2 separate regions of the Homo sapiens genome follow, and region 1 is linked to region 2. Evidence: fine-mapped expression QTL. A gene starts in region 2. The other region holds a variant in brackets. All regions are shown on one strand. Distances are between the middles of the regions. Region 1 overlaps NSMAF (neutral sphingomyelinase activation associated factor). Region 2 holds the start of SDCBP (syndecan binding protein).

Region 1 (4,397 bases), 91 kb before region 2:
TCTTGTTCATGGATTTAGATATGGAGGACAGGTCAATAAAAGTTACAGATTAGGATGGTAAAATTGGTTTCTGCTATCATTTTTAATTTTTTGAGTTACTTTTCTTTTGGTTCAGATGATGATGATGATGATGATGATGATTTTGAGACGGAGTCTCGCTCTTGTTGCCTAGGCTGGAGTGCAGTGGCGCGATCTTGGCTCACTGCAACCTCTACTTCCCAGGTTCAAGCAATTCTCCTGCCTCAGCCTCCCGAGTAGCTGGGATTATAGGCGCCCGCCACCACGCCTGGCTAATTTTTGTACTTTTAGTAGAGAGGTGGTTTCACCATGTTGACCAGGCTGGTCTCGAACTCCTGACCTCAGGCAAACCGCCCGCCTTGGCCTCCCGAAGTGCTGGGATTACAGGTGTGAGCCGCTGCGCCTGGCCTATTATTTTTTTTTGATGAGCATCTCTTCTGGTGTTATGAATATAACTTCTTCTTTGTAGGGATATTAATTGTAGCCTTTTGACCTTTTCTTCTGTTCTCTGCATTGTGTTTAGTCCTTCAAGTTGCATTCTTCCTGCTTGCTTTGGCTTTGTTCTTTCATCCTAGAGGCTGTGATCTTGGGCTGTTCATTCATATTTAAATGTGAAGCATTTAATTCTGTGTCACTGGGAATGGGCTATTTCAGTTGAGTTTCACTGTGGGATGATGTTGTAGAGACCTGGCTTTTTCTCTGAGGCTGTTTAGTTTTTTCCAAAACTAATGTACCAGACTCCTGCCTGGAGTGATATATGGATGAAGCTGGAAACCATAATTCTCAGCAAACTAGTGTTCATCTATTCCATGTTTTGCATAGTCATCCTCTCTTCACACTACAATCCTGCTCTCCACTGTGCCTGATACCTAGTGTGCAGCCTCTTGTTCCACTTTTTTTTAAATAGAAAAACCACATGCCAGAGTGCAGTATGGTTAACCCATCAGGAAAAGAATTGGGGGCTACTGCCCTCATTCACTTTTAACCACCCTCATGCTTTACAAACCCTGTCCTCTTGGTACCTGATACTGCAATTTCTTTTTTTTTTTTTTTTAATTATACTTTAAGTTCTGGAGTACATGTGCAGAACGTGCAGGTTTGTTACATAGGTATACACGTGCCATGGTGGTTTGCTGCACCCATCAACACATCATCTACATTAGGTATTTCTCCTAATGCTATCCCTCCTCTAGCTCCCCACCCCGCCAACAGGTCCCCGTGTGTGATGTTCACCTCCCTGTGTCCATGTGTTCTCATTGTTCAGCTCCCACTTATGAGCGAGAACATGGCGGTGCTTGGTTTTCTGTTCTTGTGTTTGCTGAGAATGATGGTTTCCAGCTTCATCCATGTCGCTGCAAAGGACATGAATTCATCCTTTTTTACGGCTGCATAGTATTCCATGGTGTATATGTGCCACATTTTCTTTATCCAGTCTATCATTGATGGGCATTTGGGTTGGTTCCAAGTCTTTGCTATTGTGAACAGTGCCGCATTAAACATATGTGTGCCTGTTTCTTTGTAGCAGAATGATTTATAATCCTTTGGGTATATACCCAGTAATGGGATGGCTTGGTCAAATGGTATTTCTAGTTCTAGATCCTTGAGGAATCGCCACACTGTCTTCCACAATGGTTGAACTAATTTACACTCCCACCAGCAGTGTAAAAGCATTCCTATTTCTCCACATCGTCTCTAGCACTTGATCCTGCAATTTCTGAACTTTTTGGAAGTCCGGTGACTTGAACTGGTTTTCTCCTGAGTGGTGCCTTCTCTGGAGGCATCTGAAATTCTGATTTCTGAGCACTGCTTATTCCCCCGGTCTGCTTTCCATTTCTCACAGATTTGTTCATGTCTCTTCTCTGCTTTAATATCTCTCCAATTTGCTTTAGCCTGTGGGTTTTACCATTTAAAAATAGTTTTATTCACATTGTAGTGGTGTTTCAAGAGGCAGTGAAATAAACATATATGTGTAATCTGCCATGTTTAATGTAAATTTCTTCCTCCAACACACTGGAACTTAAGGCCCATCTCAAGTCCCACACTTTTCATGAAAGCTTTTGCCTGTAACTCATTGATGTTTCCTGGTCCTTATCACAAAACAAAACAAAAAAATGCCTGTTTTCACTTCTTTGTCATGTATTTGTTGCTGTAGCCATACAACAAAATTAATAATTTTTCTTAATGACTTCTCTTGTTTTTAAAAGTTTAAATGACTTTCAACTTTAAAAAGAACTATATTTCAATCCCATTCAGTTTGGTTTACTCATTTTACTTATTAAACACCCATTGTGTAGACAGCATGGGCTGGTTATCACAAGGGAATATCTAAAGATCTGTTGGCTGGGCCGGTGGCTCATGCTTGTAATCCCAGCACTTTGGGAGGCCGAGGTGGGTGGATTA[C/T]GTGAGGTTGGGAGTTCGAGACCAGCCTTACCAACATGGAGAAACCCTGTCTCTACTAAAAATACAAAATTAGCCAGGCATGGTGGTGCATGCCTGTAATCCCAGCTACTTGGGAGGCTGAGGCAGGAGAATTACTTGAACCCGGGAGGTGGAGGTTACTTGAGCTGAGACTGCGCCATTTTACTCCAGGCTGGGCAACAAGAGTGAAACTCCGTCCCAAAAAAAAAAAAAAAGATCTGTCCCTAGAGGCATGTGTTCTTGTGGGAGTAACTCAGATAACCATGAGGCAGATGTTGGGGGCAGGGAGGTATGACAGGGAAGAGGTGGGGAAGCCTAGCATTGTTCAGTCAGGGGAAACAAATGCTCAAAATTCCCTAAGTAGGAAAGCGCTGAGCTTTGTTCAGATAAGGATAAGTTTAACTTCACAAAATTCAGGGTTTCTGTAAAAGAGTAGTACATCCACCTGGTGAGTGATTTTATTTTTGACATAGTAGTTATTTGGACACAAGGCAAGCCCAGCTATGTACTTCCCGCCACTGGGTAGAGAGGACTGCCTGGCATGATATACATGCTTCATAAATGTTTGTTAAATTCAAGAATGGAAAAGCTTTTTGGGATCAGACGTTTTAAATATATTGCCTTCTTATACTTACTAAAAAATAAACTGAAAGTTGTTTTTTCGCCCCAAATCCAGATTTTCCTTGCTGCTGCTTAACTTGGAGGAGTACTACTTTGAACAGCATAGAGCCAATCACATTTTGCACAAGGGCAGTCACCATGAAAGGTAAGGAAGCTTCGGTATCTCCTTGGACAAACAAACCTTTCTGATATCTGAACTTTTAAAGTTAAATGTGTGATCATATAGGTGTTAACTAAAGAAAAAATTAGGCTTTAAAAAAAATTAAAGTAAATTTTATTTAGACTTTTATTGAGGATTATAACCTAGGAGAGTCTTTTGGAGAGTTTTTGCTATGTTTATTATTTTATCTCCCATGAAGTTTTTTTCATCTTTTCTCTTATTAGGGAAGTAATGAGAAGAGTGTATTTAAAAGTTATAATTGTAACTTGAAACCTTTTTCAAAGCTAAAAAGCATTTGTTCCAATTCTGGGGTTGTAGATATCTTAAGCTTGATAGGACTCCAGTCCATCCCATCATTTTTTTGTTGCATCCCTCTTGTAGTTATGCAGTATCCTCTGCTCTCAATTATTCGGGTGACAATGTTATAAAGTAATGATTATAAACCACAAGAGTGGTATAAAATCAGTACTTTCAAAATGAGTCATGCGATTTGAACTAGAAGCAAGATCTGATTTCTCAGTATCTTAATAACTATTACTCACTACTATAAAAACAGATTGTTTCTTTGACTTTACCTTTTGAAAGCTATGTACAGAAGCATGTAATGAAGCTTTTTGTTTGCTTAAAATGGCAACTTAGAATTAACTAAGATGAAAATTGTTCCACCAAAAAGGTATCTGCTAATGATTTCCTTTTGGGAGGTTACTTAACAACTGTAAGCCATAACTTAGGAAATTCTTTGACAGTAGATAAATCCACTTATTTTTATTATTCTTCAGGTTTATCCTTAACGGATCAAAAACATGTGGTATTTGTTTAAATACAAGCTAAAGTAAAACTCACTTGGTTTTTTTGTTTAGTAGCTTATGACATATCTATTTTCTTGGCATTCAATCAAATTAGACAATTATTCATCCCTGAACACAGCACCTTGCTTTCTTATCTCTGGAATTTTGCTCATATTCTTTTCCCTAATTCCATATCTTTTTTCCTTCCAACATTCTTCTATCGTATATCATCATAGTGCCTTGCTTAAAATTAAATGTACTTGTTTATTATTAAAATACAACTACAGGTAGCAAACTGAAACCTGTTTTTATAATTTTAAAGTAACTATTAGGGCAAAATGGTACAGCCCCATGTAGGTGTATTTGGTAATATCTGGTAAGATGACATGTGC
Region 2 (4,397 bases):
CTTACCGAAATTCTAAATTCAGATACCCTCCAACTCTGCAGTATCACTTCAGGTCTCAAAACCTGAAGTGTAAAAATATATGTGCACAAAGGAAGCAACATATGTAAAAGTTGATTCACTGCAGCACTGAGTGTAACAGCAAAAGACTTGAAAGCTATATATGCTGATATTAGAAAAGCTCCAAAATATGATCACTAACTGGAAAAATAAGAGCAAAATGTGAAGCAGTATATAAAATGTTAACGTTTGTGTTAAAAGCAAGGAGGCAAATACAGCTTATATGTTTGCCTGTGTAGATATAAAATTTGCCTAGAATACCTAAGAAATGTAAAAAAGTTGCCTGCCTGCCAGAAGACTTGTTACTTTATACCTTTTTATGCTGCTTAAATTTTGAGACAAGTGACTGTTTACCTACTCAAAAACAATACATTTACAAAACATGTTGGCAGCACTTGAAAAGAAATTAATAAATGCTAACGTAACTATTGCTAAAAGTAGAAAGTATTTCAAAGTTATTTGGGGGCGCTTTTCTTTTTTAGAATCTCTTGGCATTTAATACCTATAAAAAGTTCCCAAATCTGGCAAAAACAGGGAAAATAGTTGTCACGCTCATTTTAAGAAACTCTTTAATTAAACAGTACATTTAACCGGCAACCATTAGCAAATTCTTCCCCTTTTGTTCATCTTTTTCCCCTTTTTACATCTTTTCCTATAATGCCCAAAACTAAAAGTTAATGTCTCCAAAGTTAAATTTAATTTATAATGGAGTGACTATTTACTGACCATTTTAAAAGTCATTCTACTTCTTTTTATTCTGTGCCACAAACCACTAGATTTATAATATTTATGTACCATTTAAGGCACAAATTTTATAGAATTAAGTTGGTAACACAGAAGACAAAAGGACGTATTTTCTACCGTTATCCCTCAATCTTAAACAGGAAAATAAAAAGACTGAACAAATTTGAGTTTTAACTAATCACATACACATTTAGAAATCAATTTAATTTAAAAGGCCCGCAGTTGTTTTTCAAGGTAAATTTCCTGCTTTAATCAACGATTTCTTTTTGAAACAAGCGGATGTTAAGAGTTTGGTAAGCCGAGCGTACTTTCTAAGCAATGTACGTAATGGAAAAGATAACAGTAAATGTGTATGTGGTTATACAGACTAGATAATCTACAAACTCCTTTCAAAAATGGACACATTAGAAGACTCCATGACTCAATAATCACCACTTTGGTAAAAGTGAAAACTTTCCACATCCATATGCCTTCCCTTTCCCATTATTACAAGGAAATCCTGAAAGGAAGGCTCTGAGTCATCATATCTCAGGGGTCAGATCTCAGGGGTATTTCCTTCTAAACACACCCTACTGGAAACGTTTCTCCCTCAGGTCCAACTTCTCCAGGAAAAAGCTCAAAGCGAACAACCTCTCCCCACCCCCTTCCAAAAAAGTCAAGGCTTCGCCCAATAAACAAACACTTCCTTCCTCCTTTCAAATCCAGGACTTTCCGAATAACCCAAAAGAAGGGCGATTAAGCACAGCCCTAGAAACGCCGAGCACTGGGAGGAACCGTGGCCAGAGGCTCTTTCTTATGTCGAGATCTTATCGAGGAGAAAACAAGGATCGAGAGACGGTCCCAGGAAGAACCCCAGAGCTGGGGCGGGGGCTGAAGGCGTTCACCCAGCCGGGCCTCCGGGCTCTGCCAGCCCCAGCCCCAGCCCCAGCCCCAGCCCCAGCCCGGGCAGGAACCCGAAACGCGCGGGGTCGCGGCAGGAAGAGCGCGCTGCTCCCGCAAACTTGCCCCCCCAGCCAGCAGGGCGCAGGGAGGGGCGCGGAGCCCCCTGAGGAGAGGGCGTCGCCGCTGCCTCGCGAAAACGGCTGCGACCAGGATGCAGTCTGTGAAGTGGCCCAGGGACCGTCACACCTCTGCCCCAAGTCCCCGCGCCCGGGACCTGGCACCGGCGTCCCTCCTTGCCCCCTTGGCCTCTCACCTAGCCCACAAGGAACCGCTCGCCGCCGCCGCCTCCGGTCACTGGCACGGACTTCTGAGGCCCGAGTGTAAGAGAGCGGTGCGCGCCCGAGGACCGCCCCCGAGGCGCGTCATGGCACCGCCCCCGCCTTCAGCCCGCGCAGTCGCACGGCGCCGGGTCGGGTGATCCCGTCCCCAAGGTAACGGGGCGGTAGGGGTAAAGAGGCCTGGGTGTGGGTCGTTCCTGCAGCTCCAGGTATCCGGCAAAGTGGGGCGGTTCATGCCGCCCGCTGTCCGCTGCCCGCTGCCCAGCGGTTATGCTCCCAGTCTTCTCCGCTCTTCGGCTGTTCGTGCCCGCGGGCCCCGTGCCACCCACTCACTACTGTGTGCATCGCAGCTCACGGTCGCTTGGTTCTCGTCGCCTCCAATTCAAAGAGGTCTCGGGAGCCCCTGTTCCCTCTTGGGATGCCTTCGACTTCCACCACTTGCTGCCCTAGTCTCACTCTCCGCTTGCTGTACCTCTCCACTATAGGCTCAGAAACGTTCCTCTCACGACCCCTTCTCAACTCCTGCTTTATTTTTCTGTTGGAAATTTGGATGTTGGGGGTGGGGGGCGTATTACTCTGTCCGCCTAAGCTAATATTCCTTCGCTATTGAGAGTTAGGTGTGGTGCTGCGCAAAAGTAATTGCTTCCCAGTAAAAAAACATAACGATCATTTCTTGAGGGCTGATTTTGTGCCAGCCATAGCTCTACGAACTTAATGTATAGTCTTATTTGGTCTTCACATCAGTCTATAAAGACATCCCATTACAGACAAAGAAACTGAGGCACAGTTTACCCAAGAGTAATCATAGTTACCACGGAATACTGTAGAGTCCTTGACAAAATAGCATTTACAAGCAGTTTATTTCTAGCTAAATTAGTGCCAGAATAATTTAATATATGGCAAAACTAATAAAAATCTGAGTGTAAAAGAGGTGACAACTAAAGATGAAAACTTTGCTCTCAGTAAGGTTATAGTTAGGCTGATGAAATGGACATTTAAAAATAATTACAAGGTAGATTGGGAAGGAAGAAATAAAACTTTTTGCTTTCAGATGAGATGGTTATCTAACATAGAAAATCCGGAAAAAATTGACACTCCTCGCCTAAAAAAACAGAATGAAAAGCAATTATAGCAAGTTTGCATGAGCAAGTTTAAAACAGGCTCATTCTAAGCCAAAATGCTTGGGACCAGAAATGTTTCCAATTTTGGATTTTTTTTTTTTTTGCTTTTGTAATATTTGCATTATATACTTATGGGTTTACCATCCCTACTCCAAAACTCAAAATGTTCCAGTGAACATTTCCCTTGGTCCTCATGTCAGCACTCAAAAAGTTTCATATTTTAGAGTAGTTCATATTTTGGATTTCTGTACTAGGAATAGTCGACCTGCATACATGGTCTGTTGTTTTCTTATATACCATCAATAAACAATTGGTATTTGAAATTAAAAACAATAACCACTGACATTAGCACCAAAATAAAATGAAATATTTAGGTATAAATCTAACAAAATATGTAAAAGGTTTATACAAGAAAAACTACAAAATTCTAAATAAAAAAAACTTCCAATGAGAAAAACTACAAAGTTCAAAGGAGATCTAAATAAATTTAAAGATATTCCATTTTCATGGATAGGAGTACTTGATATTTAACTGTCAGTTCTGCCCAACTTAATCTATAGATTTGATACAATCAAATCAAATCAATCAAAATCCCAGCAAGTTATTTTGTGGATATTAACTGATTCTCAAGTTTATATGGAAAAATGAAAGACCAGAAGAGCCAAACCAATACCAAAGGAGAGGAACAAAGTCAGAGGCCTAACAGTACCTTAGTTCAGGCTGTTGTAACAAATTGCCATAGATTGGGTGGCTTAAACGACAGAAATTTATTTCTCACATCTCTGAAGTCTGAGAAGCCCAAAATCAAGTTGCTGGCACATCTGGAAATCTGGTGAGGGCTCACTTTTGAGTGTGCAGATGGCATTCTTCCCATTGTATCCCCACATGGCAGAAAACAAGACAGATAAAGCACATTCTCTTCTATCTATTCTTATTAGGGCATTCATTTCATTACGAGGGCTCAACTCTCATGAGCTAATTATCTCTCAAAAACCTTGGGTCTAAATACCATCACATTGGAGATTAAGCCTCAACATATAAATTTTGGGGGGACACAAACATTCAGTCCATAGAAGTACTCAACTTCAAAATTTACTATAAAGCTATAGTAATCAAGAGAGCATGGTATTGACAAAAGAATAAACAAATAGATCAATGGAACAGAATACAAAGCACAGAACTTGACCCAAACAGATACATTTAACAGATCTTTGGCAAAGTAGCAAAGGACAGTCTTCTCAATAAATGGTGCTGG

What was found. PIP is the estimated chance that this variant, and not a neighbour inherited with it, causes the effect. A credible set is the group of variants that fine-mapping cannot tell apart.
Region 1: its variant is the best candidate, but not a certain one, in a credible set for the expression of SDCBP in whole blood (INTERVAL, PIP 0.60).

The regions. Positions count from the first base shown.
Region 1 is chr8:58,641,789-58,646,185 of GRCh38, reverse strand. NSMAF (neutral sphingomyelinase activation associated factor) reads left to right here. Exons shown (of 31, transcript NM_003580.4): 2 at 3,113-3,202. Among named protein-coding and RNA genes, the nearest start is that of NSMAF, 16 kb to the left of the region's middle. RefSeq lists an enhancer at 182-742. The variant C/T (reference allele first, on the strand shown) is at 2,419.
Region 2 is chr8:58,550,903-58,555,299 of GRCh38, reverse strand. SDCBP (syndecan binding protein) reads right to left here and starts at 2,039. Exons shown (of 9, transcript NM_005625.4): 1 at 1,997-2,039. RefSeq lists a silencer at 1,657-2,186 and enhancers at 1,663-2,380, 2,287-2,466.